2 separate regions of the Homo sapiens genome follow, and region 2 is linked to region 1. The links come from fine-mapping of genetic effects on gene expression. Tissue or cell type: cerebral cortex. Region 1 holds a variant in brackets; the other region holds the start of a gene. All regions are shown on one strand. Distances are from middle to middle.

Region 1 (8,101 bases):
ACGCCCGGCTAATTTTGTATTTTTAGTAGAGACAGGGTTTCGCCATGTTGGCCAGGCTGATCTCGAACTCGTGACCTCAGGTGATCCGCCTGCCTCGGCCTCCCAAAGTGCTGGGATTACAGGCGTGAGCCACCACACCCGGCCTGTCTCCACCATCTTAAGTACAGTGGAGGGGTCTGCATTTTTTCTGGAAACCAGGTGTCCGGCAGAGAGTGGGCACTGCTGGAAACTGTTTTGCAAAATAAACACACTTGTGGGTACAAACTGTGTACCAGGAGGAGCCACGACCCTCAGATCTCTCGGGTCCAGGATTGTACCCAGGACAGGCAGTGTATGGAGGGGAGGCCATGATCACTGAGTCTCTGGCCACTCCCTGGGGCCCTGAGTGTTATTCCCTGGTCTGCTCATATATACAGGCAGCACGGCCCCATGGTTAGCATCCAGGCTCCAAGACCCAACCACGTGGGTTCAAATCCCAGCTAGCTACCAGCCTGCCAGGGGATCCTGGGCAAGTGACTTAATCTTTTGGGCCTCAGTTTACCTATCAGAAAAATAGGGCAAGTGATAGGATTGTCGTGAGCATTAAGTGAATTTTCGAAGTTATTATTTATTTATTTTAGAAACAGAGTCTCACTCTGTCACCCCGGTTGGAGTGCAGTGGCTTGATCATAGCTCACTGCAGCCTCCCAACTCCTGAGCTCAAGCGATCTGCCTGCCTTAGCCCACTGAATAGCTGGGACTACAGGTGCACACCACCATGCCTGGCTAATTTTTAATTTTTTTGGAGAGATGAGGTCTCACTCTGTTGCCCAGTCAGGTCTCAAACTCCTAGCCTTAGGCGATCTTTCTACCTCAGCCTCCCAAGGTGCTGGAATTACAGGCAAGAGCCACTGCATCTGGCCTAAATAATTTTTTGTGTGTGTTTTTTTGAGTCTGGGTCTCACTCACTCTGTCACCCAGGCTGGAGTGCAGTGGTGATATCTCAGCTCACTGCAGCCTCAACCTCCAGGGCTCAAGCAATCCTTTCCATCTCTGCCTCCTGAGTAGCTGGGACTATAGGTACATGCCACCACACATGGCAAATTTTTTATTTTTTGTAGGGATTGGGGGTCTTGCTATGTTGCCCAGGCTGGTCTTGAACTCCTGGCCTCAAGCGATTCTCCCACCTTGCCTCCTAAAGCACTGGGATGAGTGTGAGCCACTGCACCTGGCCTAAATGAGTTTAATACGTAGTTAATATCTGGCTCTTGCCAAGTGCTTCATCAGTGCTAGTGGACATTATTGTTTTAATCATTACTGTTATTATTATTAGGGAAGGCAGATTGTGTAGGATCCTAAGTAGGAAGTTTCGTCTTTATCTTGGGCAGCAGTGGGCAGATTCAAAAGCCTGCTCTGAGTTGGTTTCAGTGACAGTGAGAGAAGTGAGAGGAAGTAAGAGGGCGATGCTAACCATGGTGGCGTCTAGCGCGTGAGCTGTCAGGGCTCTGCCCCACACCTTACCTGTGCCATCGACTTCACCCCCACACACAGCCCCCACCTAACAGAAGTCTCTGCTCACCCCCTTTTCAGACGGGAAAACCCAGGCTCAGTACTATGTCACCTGCCCCAGGGCATATAGCCAGGGAGTGGCCAAGCCTGGGTTCAAACCCTGGGATGTTTCCTATTGCTGCTGTAACAGATTACACCAAACTGAAAATGACACACTTTCATGACCTTACTGTTCTGAAAGTCAGAAAGCCAAAGTGGGTCTTACGAGGGGAAAATCAAGGTGCAGGCAGTATGGAGTTCCTTCTGGAGGCTTCAGGGGAGAATCCATGCCTTGTCTTGAGGCCAATGGCACTCACTGGCTTGCACCGCTCCCACCTCTGCTCCCACTGGAGTCGAAGTGGGCCCTCTGGGCCTGACCCTCCCGCCTCCCTCTCATAAGGCCCCTGGTGACTGCCTTGGGTCCACTGGATAAGCCAGGCTCATCTTCCCATCTCAAGACCCTGAATTGAATCACACCTACAAAGTCCCTTTGCCATGTAAGGTCACATGTTCACAGGCTCTGGGGATTAGGAGGTGGGCACCTTTGGGGGGTCATTATTCTGTCTACTGGACACCTAGAGTTTGGCTCCAATCCTGCCTTTTTGGCTTTCCCTGGGAGTGCCCGGGCTGAGGGTGAACGGAGGAGGCACCGCACGGTGGCGGGGGAGCGAGTGGCCTGGTCTCCGGGCAGGCCTGGGCCTTTATGTAAGGAGGCTGTAAGCCTGGGAGAGTAGGCCCAGGGTTGAGTGAGGACCACCAGGTCAGAGCGAGGGGAGTGAAGAGGCCTAGGACGAAGCTCCTGCTGACCAGAGCCAGAAAAAAGCAGGCCTGGTGGCCAGAGAGGCCGACTTTCCGAAAGAAGCTGGAAATTCTGGGTTTTATACGAAATCGCCAATTTTTAAATGTTGGCAAATGATTCAAAATGATGAAGGAAACCCATGCAGTGCAGGTTATACAAAACCACACAGTGCAGGTCATAACGGAACTCGTCTGAAGCCAGACGAGGCCTGCAGGTGGCAAGCTGGTGGCCTTCAGCCTACCAGGGAGAGAGGGGAAGGCCAGTCCCTGCAGAGGTCAGTGAGCGTCTGGAACACTCGTGGAAGGAGGAGCTCCTTCCACCTGAGGAGCTCCTTGTGCCTGCTCTGCTGGGTGGGGGAAGCCTGGGCAGGGTGTGTTCAGGTGGGGGACAGCAGGCTTCCCCGAGGGGAAGGCCCAGAGCAAGTAGGGGTGCAGACCAGGCTCAGCTCAGCCCCAGTTCCAGCTCTGCCTTCAGGCAGGCAGGGGGCTGTGAGGCCTCGGGCAAGTTACCTGGCCTCTCTGGGCCTCCCTTTGCTCTCAGTGGAGGTTGACTCCACAGAGTATCCAGGCTCATGCATTCATTGAACAAATACTTGCTCTATGCCAGGCCCTGGGGACTTGCGAATGTGCGAAGCAGAGCGAGGCCCTGCCTCCAGGGTAGGTGGACGGGGCGTGGATGTGGAATTGAGCCTGGACTTCCTAAGAAAGGAGTCAAGAGCAGTCAGTTCTTTCCCTGCTGACAACCGCTTCCACAGCCTCATCCTGGAAGTAGCTGTGGTTTGTGACTTTTGTTCATTCATTGAGCACCAGCAGAATGCCATGTGTTCTATCCTCAAAACCTACAGGGTTGGTGTTATTATGGCCTCATTTTACAGGTGGAGAAACTGAGGCCAGGCACACAGGTCACACAGCCAGGAGGAGGCAGGGGTGGGAGGGACCCCTCACCTCTGCCTCTTCTCCCAGGCCCTCTGCCTTAGCTCTGAGCTATTTAGCAGAGGTCCTGGGGAAGCTCTTAGAGCCATCAGCTAGGGCCTACCTGGGGGGAATGTGGAAGGAATGTCTTCTGTGTATGCTAAACTTTGTCCTGAATTTACCTCCTGTCAACTTCAAGCAGA[C/T]CCGGTGCCTGACCTTGGCCACTGCATGGCCCTTGGTGCCTTTAGAGATTTCAAACTGATCCTCTTTCATCTTTCCGGACATGAGGCCTGAGCATTTTTTTTTTTTTGTCTCTCCTCCTGAGGCCATCCTGGGACTCCCTAAGCCATTTTATAATCACAGTGTCCAAGCACAAGCACCTGCTATGTATGCGCCAGGCACCCGATGGGCACAACCTCAGTTAACCTTTAACAATCCCATGAGCCCAGTGCCAGGGCTGATGAGAAACTGAAGTTCGACAGGGCCGAGTCACTTGCCCAAAGTCACACAACCATAAACGAATGGGTTCAAAGCTATACCATTACCCACCGTGCCACACGGCTTCTCTCCACCAACCACTGGGGGGTGGGAGGGGTGGTTCTGCTCTGCGCCGAGAACTTCACCAGCCTTCTGCTTAATTCATTGCCAAGACAAATCCCTGAGCATTTTGTTTTCCTGCAAGTCCCCAGTGTGGGGGCTTCTTCCTGGGATGGGGGACTGGGTTTCTAATGTATTCGGAAGCCGCTTTCTAAGACCCTTTTCTTGTCTCCAAACCCGCCCAATTGTTTTGTGTGGGGTTCCACAGTGGGGAAGTTCTCTCCATCTTTTCTCCCATGGTTGGGAAGGCGAGAAGGGCATTAACGGTGCATGCTGACAGTAGGGTGCAGGGGAGGGCTTTGGCGTCCTGGATTCCAAATGCCAAGGGAAGGCCTGGTCAGGAGGGTGGAGTTGCCCAGTTAGAACTTGGCTGGTTCTTATCAGCTCTGGAGCTCTGTGCCGGGCAGGCGCTGGAATCAAAGGAGGCCAGGCCTGTTTATTTACTTTCTCCCCTCCTTTTTGGCAAAAGGAGATCAAAGGTAAAAGCAAATGCTCCGCTCTGCACCCCTCCTCCCTTCGTTTCTTCCTTTTTCTTTCCTCCCTTAGAAGCCTGAGAACTAAAAGCCGTAGATGTAAAGGGAGGGTTTTGTCATCACCACTGTTTCCCTGGCACCGACACTGCACTGGGCCCCGGGCTAAGAATTTTGCAGAATGGCACAAATCTCTGCAACTAACATGATGTGTGACAGCTCTTATTATCCCCATGTGGCAGAGGAGGAAACTGAGGCACTGAGCGGGGAAGTCGCTCTTCACAGGTTGCTCAAGCCTCTCTAGCTTCTAGCTCCATGCTCTTTTTCTTTCTTTCTTTTTTCTTTTTTAGAGGCAGGGTCTCGCTCTGTCACCCAGGCTGGTCTTGAACTCCTGGCCTCAGGCATTCCTCCCACCTTAGCCTTCCAAAGCATTGGAATTGCAGGCCTGAGCCACCGCGCCCGGCCCAGGTGGACCAACTTAATCATGCTCTTAATCATGCCTGAAGCCACATCCCTCCTCTAAATACACATTTCCACTATGCAAAATGAGAACAGTACAAAGGTGGCTAACAGCAGAAATCCAACTTCAAAGGTTCCCTGAGTCCTTCTGTTGTGTAGTGAGTTCAGAGGCTACGAACACCCAAGCAAGACACACAGATGATTGAAGGCAGTCAGGTGGGATGCAGTAGGGAATGGTGGAGACTGTGGTGAAGTGGAGAGTCCCCGAGATGCAACTCAGCATCAATCCATTGCTGCCTTGCAAAAATAAGGGCCCAGTGTGGTCGGGACTTTTGGACAAGCCAGGTGTTTTATGTGAACTCCCTGGATTTGTAGTAGAAGATGGGAGTCCATTTTTGTTTTTTGCTGATAGTGGGCTCGGCTGGGGTCCTGGATTAAATATTCCATTTTCCCAGTGAGTTGAAATATTATCTTTGTCCTGATCCTTCTCATTGTTCTTTCATTTTGTACTTTTTTCTTTGTGAACTCAAAGATTGTTTTATCCAACTAAAAAAACCTTGTGGGTCGCTACTTTAAATTGCATTAAGTTTTATGTATGTTGGCAGAATGGTCATCTTAAGGATGTGAAATCTTCCCATCCAATTATTCTCATCTTATTTGGTGCCCTTTGGGAGGATTTTCAAAGTTTTCTTCCAAAATATCTTGATTTTTAAAATAATGCCAAAATTCCAAGCTGTTTGAACTGCATGGGCCAAGCAACATCTCCTGGGGGCTGTGTTTGGCCCAGGGGATCCCTGTTGCTCCCTGAGATTCAGGGCAGCCTCACCCCATGGGGGAGACTGAACACGCTGTCATTCAAAGATAACCCTGTCCCAGGCGGGAAGATCTCCAGCGCCAGAGAACTGGGGGCAGACTGGGCTGGGAAACTCTGGGATGTTCGCTGCTTGACCCACTCTGTGGGAAGCCAGTGTGCCCACTTCCTTCACACTCAGCCAGATAAGCCCGCCGAGGCTGTGCCTTCCTGCTGAGGCTCCTGCCAGCTCATTTTTGACCAGCACTTAAAACAACAATTAAAAACAACTCATATGGTGTGCTTTGCTTTTGAAAAAGCAAAGCAATTTTTTCACTTTGTATTTTTATTTTTGAGACAAGGTCTAGCTGTCACCAAGGCTGGAGTGCAGTGGCATGATTACGGCTCACTGCAGCCTCGACCTCTTGGGTTCAAGCAGTCCTCCCACTTCAGCCTCCGGAGTAGCTGGAACTACAGGCAGGTATCACCACGCCCTGCTAATACTTTAATTTTTTTTTTTTTATAGAGATAGGGTCTCACTATGTTGCCCAGATGGGTGTTGAACTCCTAGACTCAAGCGATCCTCCCGCCTCATCCACCCAAAGTGCTGGGATTACAGGTGTGAGCCACCTTGCCCAGTGTGCAAAGTACATTTTTTAAAAATAAGAAAACACCTTCCGTTGGTCCAGGAATATGTATTGAGATCCACTAGTGCCAGGCACTGGGCAAGGCTCTGGGGACGGGGTGAAGTTCCTGCTTTCCTGGGTCTGAAGCTCTAGCGGGGAACACAGGCGATAAGCCCAGAAACAGATGAAAAAATACGGCGCATTCCAGCGACGGTCAGGGCAGAAAGAGATAAGGTGAGTGGAATAAGAGGGACCGGAGGGCCACCTTAGGCAAGAGCTTGGGGACGACCTCTCAGCAGAGGTGACATTTTGCCGAGACGGGAATGACGAGAAGGAGACAGCGGTGGGACTCCTGTCTCAATGGTCACTCTGATACTCAGGAAAGCACTGTGGCTTTTGGGCATTTAACCGGCCAAACTTTTTTGCCTAATTATATTTTTATATTTTGTTATTTATTTATTTAATTTATATATTACATGTTTGCATTTTCTAAAAACCAAAAGTAGCCATGCAGTGTTTTATAACTGCCTATTTTTCCTACTTGAAGCCTCAGTTTCCCCATGTGTCAACTGGAGATGTTCTCAGTAGCCACCCCACGTGAAGGCAAAACACAGGCCGATGTGAGGATTTGCTAAGGAAATGACCTATGGAACACAATTGATCCAAAGATGAGCAATTATTGGTATATTTTTATTATCATTTTATTATTATTTTTATGAGTCCCAAGAGGTGGAGATTGGCATTTCCATTTTGCAGGTGAGATTTTTCAGCCTCAGAGAGTCACACATCAAAGGCTGAGATGCGAGCAGTTGGACAGAGGGCAGGACGGCATTCCTCTGACCCCCCAGCCTGAATACAGTGAAACCTCAGCCAGATAGAGCCCCTTTTTCTTGGGAGAGGAAGTCGAGGCTGAAACCAGCTGCTTCTTTTTGGTCGTTTTTTTCCCTTTCTGCGATGTTTGTTTTTGTGAACATCGTACTTATCTGATGTCACAGGTTTTGGGAACCTAAACCACAGACATAAATACATTGTGTTGTGCTTTGAAGGATTGTGCAGCGAGATAAGTGAGTTTGGTGATGGGGGGATACAGCGTGCATGGACGCAGGGCTTTTTTTTTTTTTTTTTTGCAGAACTAAGAACGTCAATGTTTGTTCTCGGGTTCAAAGAAGTCAGCGTCTTTGGCGGGAGCTGGGCCACCATCGCCCGGACCACGCTGGGGTGCTAAGTGCTCACATCCTCCCCAGCACTGTCCTCAACAGCCAAGAGGCAGGCACAGGGGAAAACCCACCAGCAACACCAGCACCACAGCGTCCACACCCGCCGAGGATGCTGCACAAAAGGCCCATGGACCAGGGTGCCTGGGGGCAGGGCATGCTGGGCACCGTCCATCTTCTGGCAGCTTCTGGTTAACCCGAAAATCCTGTTTGGTTTTCCTGTGTCTTTTGAGAATGTCACTCAAACCCCTGAATCCTCTCTGTGATCTAAGTGTCATGAGGCCTGCAAAACCTCGCTTCCTGCAGCAGACTTCTCCGCTTCCTGGCCCCCATGAAGACTGTTATCCACAAGTAGCCAGAGGGATTCTGTAAAAATCAAAGTCAGGGCAGGGCCCTCCTCTGCTCAAAACCCTCCCATGGCTCCCTACTTCACTCAGGGAGGAAGCCACGCCCATATTGTAGCCTCTTCCACCTCTCACACTCATTGCACAGGCGGCCACCAAGCCCCTTTCTACCCCAGTGCCTTTGCACTTGCCACCCCCTTACTTCATTGCAATCCCTTCTTAGCAGAGAGGCTGACCCTGAATTCCCTCCTGAAATAGTGACCCTTCTCAAATAAGTCTCCCCTCGCCTTGCCTTATTTGTCTTCATATCTGTTCGTCACTACCTGACATGTTAGATATTTATTATTTTCTCTCTTGCCGTTGG
Region 2 (8,101 bases), 410 kb after region 1:
TTTTTTTTTAATCTACTGAGCTCCTACTAAGTGCTAGACACTATTCCATAATACTGAATAGTCTTTTTAAAAAACATGCAATTCTCCAATCCCCTCACGCCCAGTCTGATATGCCCGCAAGGTCAGGGCCCGCCTGTGAAATCCCAGCGCTGGATGGAATTTAAGAGCTGAGAGTGAATTCATTCCATCACCTCCTGGGTGCCTAGGGTGCCACACTGAGCTACCAGGGTAGGAGAGAGTCCAGAGGATGGCTCCAATGGGACCCATGCATTCAATAGGGACTTATGGAGCGCCTGAGAGCTGGACTCAGTCTCATGGGGCAGAAATGGAAACTCGCCACTCCAAAGGGTGGGGGACATAGAGGATTGGGGGAGGGGTGCCTGAGCACTACTCCACTCTGCCATTACTCAGCAGCCTCCACACGCCACGCCTGAAGGGTTTGTTGATTGCATTCTAAGTCTTCATGTGAATGAGAAGGGTAAGTTCACCCTTGTGAACTAAGGGCTGACTCTGGAGATCTGGAAAAGGGGCTGGAGTCCATTTGTAAGACCAGAGTTAGGACAGCACCTCCCTTCCCTTCCCAGGGCTGTTGGTGAAGTCCTGAGCACTACCCTCCTGTACAGTAAGTGCCCAAAGTGTGATGAGACCTGAACCCAAACAAAAGGGGAAGGAGACATTCTAGGACATGATGGGCTGGGGGCGGGGGCTGTGTGCACACGCAGGAGGCACAGACCCCCACTCCTTGGATCCCTCGCCCCCCAGACGCCTTCATGGTACTCCTGGCAAGTGTGAAATCGGCACCAGGCCGGCGGGGACAAAGGGCGCCGAGGGGGGCACTGTACATGCGATATCCCCGGATTAAAGGGGCCTGCCATGCAGTGGGCCAGCAGCTGTGACTGGAACAGGTGCTGGGCACCGCTGCCCCATGCACCTGCTCCACCCCTCCCAGCCCCCACCCACTGGGCCCACCATTAAGGCACACAATGGGAGTCAATGAGGACCGCAATGATACATTTCAAGGGGATTTCTGTGTCTCAGCCATGCCTTTACATTAAAATAATGTCCAGATGGGAGGTGAGAGAGGCAGGCAGGACTGCAGCACCCTGAGGGGTTCAACTGTCCCAAAATAGAGCCCTGTGAGCTGGGCAGGCACCCAGGAGGCCAGGCAGTTGGACCTTTACATGTTAAAATCAGAGCAATTGGTGCACGAAGGAAGAGAAATGGGTAGCCTTAGTCGAATAAGATGCCAATAAAGCCCGCGAATTGCCAGTCCTCCCAGACACCTCACTAACCCTCACCGCTCAGAGGTCAGGCGCCAGGCCAGGAAATGGCAGAACCTGGCCAGCTTGAACCCTGTGGAATCTTCTCCCTCAACTGTCACTCTCCAAAGAGCAGCTCCAGGCACAGTGGCTGCCACCATTCAAGTTCTAAAAAGTTCTACCTTTTCTCCATGTCCAGAAAGTTTTTTACACATTTAGTAAATTTTCAAAAGACGTGATTGTGTTTTCTGCCCCAAAGATGCCGTTTCCTGGTCTGTGTGCTAGGATTCAGTGGGGGTGGGGAAGCCGACCTGAGAACCGTTCGGGTATAATAAATTACTATAAAGTGATTAGCCACCTTTACAGCCACTCTCTAAAACATATGCTATCATAGTTTTCCCCTAAGGCTCAGAGAGGTTAAGTTGCTTGCCCAAAGTCACACAGCAAGGAAGCAGAGCAAATGCCAAGGAACCATTTTTGTGAGAGTTTAGCAGGTACCGGCACTTTGCCAGGTGCTTCCCATATGCATTCCTGCATTTAGCCTGTATAGAAACCCCAAAAGCTGTTCTCATGCCCATCTGAAAGATAGAGAAAATGAGGCTCACAGAAGAGAAACATCAGCCTAAGTTTTGAGAAAGTTCTCAAAGAAGGATTCAGAGCCAGGCGGGGGGTCTGACAACATCCTGTCTGGCTAGGGAGGGGGCGGACCCGGGAGAGGGTGTGGCCGGGTGGGCCCCTTCACACCTGGCCCCCACAGCAAGGTGTTGGTTGCACCTTTCCCATATCCAGCTCCGACCCATTTGGCTGAGAAACAGGCTGCAGGGGATTGGGAAGGTGTCTGCTTTGCCCATCTGCTTAGCTGATGAAGAAAGTTTCTGCCAAACGTTTCCAGAGAGCCAGGCCCTGGAACTTGAGCTAGAAGTTAGAAGACTCGGGGCCTCAGTGTCCACAGCTTTGGGAATGAGAACAGCAAGCCCAGATTCACAAAAGCTGCCAGAGAGAGCAACGGTGGGGGCGCCTGGAGGGGCACGTACCAGTGTGGGTCCGGACATGGCCTTGTAGCAGCCAGGGCCTAGAGAAGGCCTTCCCGCAGGTTCCGCAGACGCAGGGCAGCGTGTGGCTTCGGATGTGCATCTTGAGGGCACCCAGGCTGAGGTATTCCTTGTTGCAGTATTTGCAGTTGAAGGCCTTTCGAGCCTGGAGATCCTTGGCCTCAGAGAGCTGGGCCAGCTGCTTGGGCACTTGGCCCAAGCCTGGGAAGGCAGCATAGGCCTCGGCCTCCAAGGAAGAGACTGAAGTAGAGGAGAAGGACGAAGGAGCCGGTGAGGGTGGGCTGGGGGGCTGGGAGCCTTTCCCACTGTCCTCATCTGACAGGGAGGTCAGCTCTGCCACCCTGGGACTCTCCTGGAGCCGAAGGGAGGCCCAGGCAATTGGCTGGGCTTGGGGCGCCAGGACAGAGTCCCAGATGAGCATTGGCAGCGAGGCGGTGGGGTTGAGGATCTCCGGAGGTGGGATGGCTGCCAGCAGGTGGGCCTGGTCGTAGGGCTGCTGGAAGGTAAACTCTGAGGGAGAAAAAGCAGAGTCAGGCGTTAATTAAATCATTCACTCAATCAACAAACATGAGCCCACCGCTGGCCAGGGGCTGGGTGGGGCCGATTCTCAATACATAATTAGATCAAAAAAATTATCCACAGGACAGACCAGGTTCCTGCCCTCCTCGCCCAGGTCACCCAATCTGAGTCTCTCACACGTAGGACCCCCAGTTGAAGGAGGTCATTTCCTGATCTCCCTCTCCTAAGTCCCCAGTCTCCAGCCTGAGGCCAGAACCCCATCATCCCAGCCCCGGAGCCACCACCCTGCCCCAATCCCCCTCCTCACACACATCTCGTCTCCCCACCCCTCCCCTCAACCCTCTGGACTCCGGACTCTCCCCAGCAGCGTCCAGAGGGCCCTCCTGACACAGGCCTCCTCTCCTTCCCCTCTTGCGGAGCTCCTCCGCCTCTCGCCGGCTACAAAGGCCCCCCAAGCTGAAGACCCCTGCCCTCTACACGGCACTCCCCCAACCACCCAGACAGATCCCCGGAACTGGGGACCCACTTGCCCGGTCTCCCGAGCCCGCAATGGTCCACAAAACATCCTGTGACTCGATCCTGGCTCAGGCAGGCCGCCTCCCTCAGGTGCCCCCCACGCAGCCTTCGCCTGTCTCCCCCAAACCTCCTGGAGCCCAGAACCCCTCCAACGCACCTGGATTAGAGTCCTGCAGCTCGCTGTAGTTAGGCTTCCGATTGGGGTCGGAGGGCTTCCTGACGAGGAAAGAGCGCGGCATAGTGGTCGAGGCACTGGGGTCGCCGATTCGCGCAGCAGTAGCGCAGAAGAACCACTCGCTAGGCCGTGCCGCGGCGCAATGAATGCAGCAGCGCCGCCAACTCCCTTAAGTACTCCGGGGGGGTGGTGGGGGGTGGGAGGGGCGGGGCCTTATCTGCCACGCCCCTTTGTCACCTCCGCGCCAATCGGAGGCTCGTCTCCGCCGAAGGCCACTCCCCGAGCAGGTGCGCCGGCTGCTGGCCGGGCTCGCGCCGCGTGGCGGTGAGAGCCCGGGCGGGGACTCCTCCGAGGCGGGGTTCGCTGGCGCAGCGCGGGTCGTCCCCGGTGCTGGGGCTGTCCGGGGCGGGACGTCGAGCGAAGCGAGGCCTCTGCGAGGTGGGACCCCGGCAGGACGCCGCGCGCCCACCGGCTCAGCGCCCGGTGGTCTGAGCGCTTCTGACGCCCCCTGGCGCTGCGCGCCGGCCGGGACACCTGACCTTCCGACGCCCGCCCCCGCCTCGGGCTTGGGAGGGGGCGGAAATTTCCTCCGCCCGGCTGGCGCCTGGAGAGCGTGGCATTGACGAGGGAAACGCACATCACTGGGGAGGAAGCGAGGAAAGGGACACCGCACGTGGCTCTCGGCGGCTTGAAATGCCACGGCCTTTTTGCAAAGCAGCCTGGCCCAGCTAGCCAAGAGCACCCGTTCCTTCCCTTATCCAGTGTTTACGGAGCGCCCAGCACGTGTGGGGCACTGTACCTGGGGCCAGGGCACAGCCCCGGACAGAACACTCAGAGCCTCTCCCGAAGGGTAGCTTCTGGTCCAGTGAGGGAGACAGACGAAGTAAACAGATAATTACAATGCAAAGGGAAGTGTGCTTTGGTGGGGGAGAGACGGGACGCGGCGACCGTTAAGAGGCGGGTCACCTGACAGGGGGTCGGGGTGACTTCCCAGAGGAAGTGAAGAATTATCAAGGGAAAAGGCCCGAGGGAAGAAGTGGCAACTGCTTCAGAGTAACTCCTAGAGAGCAGCTTCCAGGGATGGGGTGGGATGGGCATGCCCGGAGGGGTCAGATGTGCTGGGCCCCAGGGCCTCGTAGGAGTTTGGACTTTGCCTCAAGGGCACTGGGGAGCCACCGAAGGATTTTCAGCTGAGGAGGGACCTGGTTAGAGTTTCGTTGAAAAAGATCCCTGTAGGCTGGCGGGAGAAAGAAGGCATGGGCCGGGCGTGTCTCCTCACCCCGTGAAGATCCTCGATCCTGTGTCTAAAGGCTGTAACACGGCTCCATAGGGGCCCTGACTGAATGCATGTGGGGTGGGCCCAAGTGAGGGGCAGCTGCACCCCCACCCCAGCTTCCCTGGGAGGCGTACCAGGCCCGGGGGTGGCTCTGAAATAAACCTCACAGGTCTCACCGTTCTTGTTTCCACCTGTGAAGGAAGACTATAAAAACCTATAAGCACCCCACACCACCACCACCACCAACCTGAAGGGCAGAACTACTGTCTGTTTAGTCACTTGGTGCCGGGTGTGACAGCCGTGAACAAAATCGTCCTCCCCTGGTTCTAGCTGGAGAGCGGGCAGTAGGGTGGGGGACAGAGGCAGTAAGCAGTCATTAAGCGGAATACTCCCCGTCCCGTGTCAATTTAGCTCCAATCAGGATCCTTTGCTTGAAGCCAAAGTGAGGCCAGATCACCCCCTCCTCTGCTCAAACCCTCCCATGCGCCTGTCTCAGAGTAAAAGCCAAAGTCCTCTCCTCAGCCAACTCGGCCCCGCTGCTCTGACCCCAGCTGACATTGGCTTGAGCCTCTCTCCCTCCCCCATGCACAAGGATCCCACCCCCAGCCTTCCTTCTGTTCCTCCAACATCCCAGACCTTTCCCACCTTGGCACCTGCTGCTCTTCCTCCTCTCCCCTACGTCTCTTGCTCCTAGATCTTCACGCTGGCTTCCTTTCATTCTTTGTTTCAGCAGCAACTTCACTAACTGCTCAGCCTCGTTTAGTGAAGAGAGAAATGGCAAATTCAAGCCACAGTGAGCTGCCATTTCACGCCCATCAGAAGGACAACAAGGAAAAATTTGGTCACTATCAAGAGTTGATGAGGAGGTGAGAGCTGGCGAGAGGGTCGGTGGGCATAGTCACTTTGGAAAAGTTTGGCATCAGCTAGCAACAGGTGACTCCTCTCCCTGTCTGTCCTCAAGCCAACTGCATCCCAGGGGCTGCAGCTGACAAGTCTGTCCTCAAACCAACTGCATCCCAGGGGTTCTCAGCTCTGGCAGCACATTAGATCCCCACAGGGAAGGATTAAAACACCTAAGCCTCGGCCCACCCCACCCCCACCCACATCTTGATTTAATTAGTCTGGGTGGGGCCTCTGGCATCAGCATTTTAAAAAACTCCCCTGGGGATTATAATGAGCAACCAAGCAAAGTAAAGAACTGTTGTCCAGCCCAAACCCCGAAAAAACAAAAAAGGATATTCATTGTACCCTCGTTCCTAATAGCAAAAAAAGCAAAAACTAAAACAAAACTGGATACAACACAAATGTTTATAAACAGTAGACTGGATTAATGAACCCTGGTGCAATCCTGTAATAGAATACTATACAGCAATAAAAATGAACTACAACTCCATGCAGCAACAGGGATGAATCTCAAAAACACAATGTCGAGCAGAGGTCACAAACAAATGCATAGTTATTTGGATTTATACGAGGTTCTGAAGCAGGCAAATGAAACCCTATATTATTTAGGGATGTATGTGGGGGTTGTAGAATTAGAAAGAAAAGCAAGGAAGTGGTTTTTTGTTTTGTTTTTGAGACGGGGTCTTGCTCTGTCACCCAGGCTGGAGTGCAGTGGCACAATCACGGCTCACTGCCGCCTGGAACTCCTGAGCTCAGCCTGCCAAAGTGCTGGGATTACAGGGGTGAGCCACTATGCCGGCTGCAAGGAGATGTTTGATACAAAATTCTGAAGAGTGGCTGGTGAGGAGGGGAGGCAAGAACAGGCTGCACATGAAGCTTCTAGAATTTTGGTAATGATCTGTTTCCTAGGCAGGGAGGGATCTTTATTGTTAGTCTTTCTACTGTACATGGACTATTTATTTTACCGTATCTTCATGACATGGTAGTGTACAGAGACAATTTAAACACTTTTAGGTATGAATAATATATTTAACACAAAAAATGTAAGTCACTTCCTCAGGGGAGCCTTCCCTGATCACCCTAGCCAAAGTAGGACCCACCCTTGCCCCAGCACCCACCTTCTTTTTTCTTTTTTTCCCCCTTTTTTCACTGAGACGCGCTACCATGCCTGGCTAATTTATTTTTTGTAGAAATGGGGTCCCACTATGTTGCCCAGGCTGGTCTCAAACTCTGCGGCTCAATTGATCCTCCCACTTTAGCCTCCCAACTTGGTGGGATTACAGGAGTGAGCCACCGCGCCCAGCCCACCTTTCTCTCTCATTGTCTTATTCTGTTTTCTTCAAAGCACATAATGGGGGCTCAATCAAGTACTTGCAGGCAGCCACTGCCTGGGCCTCCCGCTTTCCACTTTCCTTCAGTGGTCAGGCACCTGCGCGGGGCATGGGGGTGGGAGGCAACGCAGAGGGGAGGGGCCTTGCTCAGATCGGATCGAATTGTCCCCGCCACCCCCTCCAGGCCCGCCCTCGCTCCACTCCCTCCTGCAGGCGGCGGAGACCACGAGGTGAGAGGAGGCTTCGGGCCAGGCCTCTCGGCCGCAGACCCAGCTCCCTTTGCAGGGGAAGGTGAGGTGACACTTTTGATACTGTGGGGTCAGGTCCTCCCGGAAATGGGCGACATCTGCGGCCCAGGTGGCCTGGGACCCGGCAGGGCCAGGCCCTCCCCAGCTCCCCGCACGAGGGGGTCCCGCCCCAGGCCTGGGGCGCGGTCCTCTGGCGCCCTCTGCTGGCCAAGGCGCCTCCCTGCAATCGTCGCGGGGTGCAGGGGGCACGTGCTTTTCAGGGAGGTGAAGGCTGGTATAACTGCCGGGAGGGCAATCTGGGAATACCTAGTGTGCTCACGAAAGGCTTCTGGAAGGAAGGTACATTTGAATAGACACCTGCATTTTCTGCAGGTGCCAATCTCCCACTAGAAGTAAAACCAGTAGCTAAATAATGTGATTTACAGTTACCCAACTAAAAGAAGAGTCTCCCTCCATTCCAGACCTCCTTTTCCCTCCCCAAAGCAACCTTTTTTTTTTTTTAAACCAGTGTCTTGTATGACCTTCCAGGGATGGCCTATGTATATATTAATATGTGCATGGGCAGTGCGTGGTGGCTCACACCTGTAATCCCAGAGCTTTGGGAGGTCAAGGTGGGAGGATCGCTTGAGCCCAGAAGTTTGAGACAAGCCCGGGCAATATAGCAAGACCCTGTCTCAAAAAAACAAAACAAAACAAAACAAAAAATAGGCAGGTTACATGCCTGTTGTCCCAGCTACTCGGGAGGCTGAGGTGGGAGGATCACTTGAGCCTGGGAGGTAGAGGCGTCCATGAGCCAAGATCATACCACTGCACTCCAGCTTG

Direction of the effects. Positions count from the first base shown, and alleles are read on the strand shown. Sizes are in standard deviations (SD) of each study's normalised expression.
For the expression in cerebral cortex of the gene that starts at base 3,665 in region 2, T is the low allele of the variant in region 1 and C is the other (large effect, 1.1 SD a copy in GTEx).

The links. PIP is the estimated chance that this variant, and not a neighbour inherited with it, causes the effect.
Region 2: it holds the start of SNAI1, and the variant in region 1 is fine-mapped to the expression of SNAI1 in cerebral cortex (GTEx, PIP 0.96).

Annotation. Positions count from the first base shown.
Region 1 is chr20:50,385,736-50,393,836 of GRCh38, reverse strand. It overlaps LOC124904928 (a long non-coding RNA gene), which reads left to right and starts at 6,167. Exons shown (of 2, transcript XR_007067641.1): 1 at 6,167-6,413; 2 at 7,310-8,101. The variant C/T (reference allele first, on the strand shown) is at 3,441.
Region 2 is chr20:49,978,544-49,986,644 of GRCh38, reverse strand. It overlaps SNAI1 (snail family transcriptional repressor 1), which reads right to left and starts at 3,665. Exons shown (of 3, transcript NM_005985.4): 1 at 3,504-3,665; 2 at 2,294-2,821. The coding sequence starts at 3,585. RefSeq lists silencers at 3,651-4,170, 7,232-7,331, 7,432-7,491 and an enhancer at 4,323-5,260.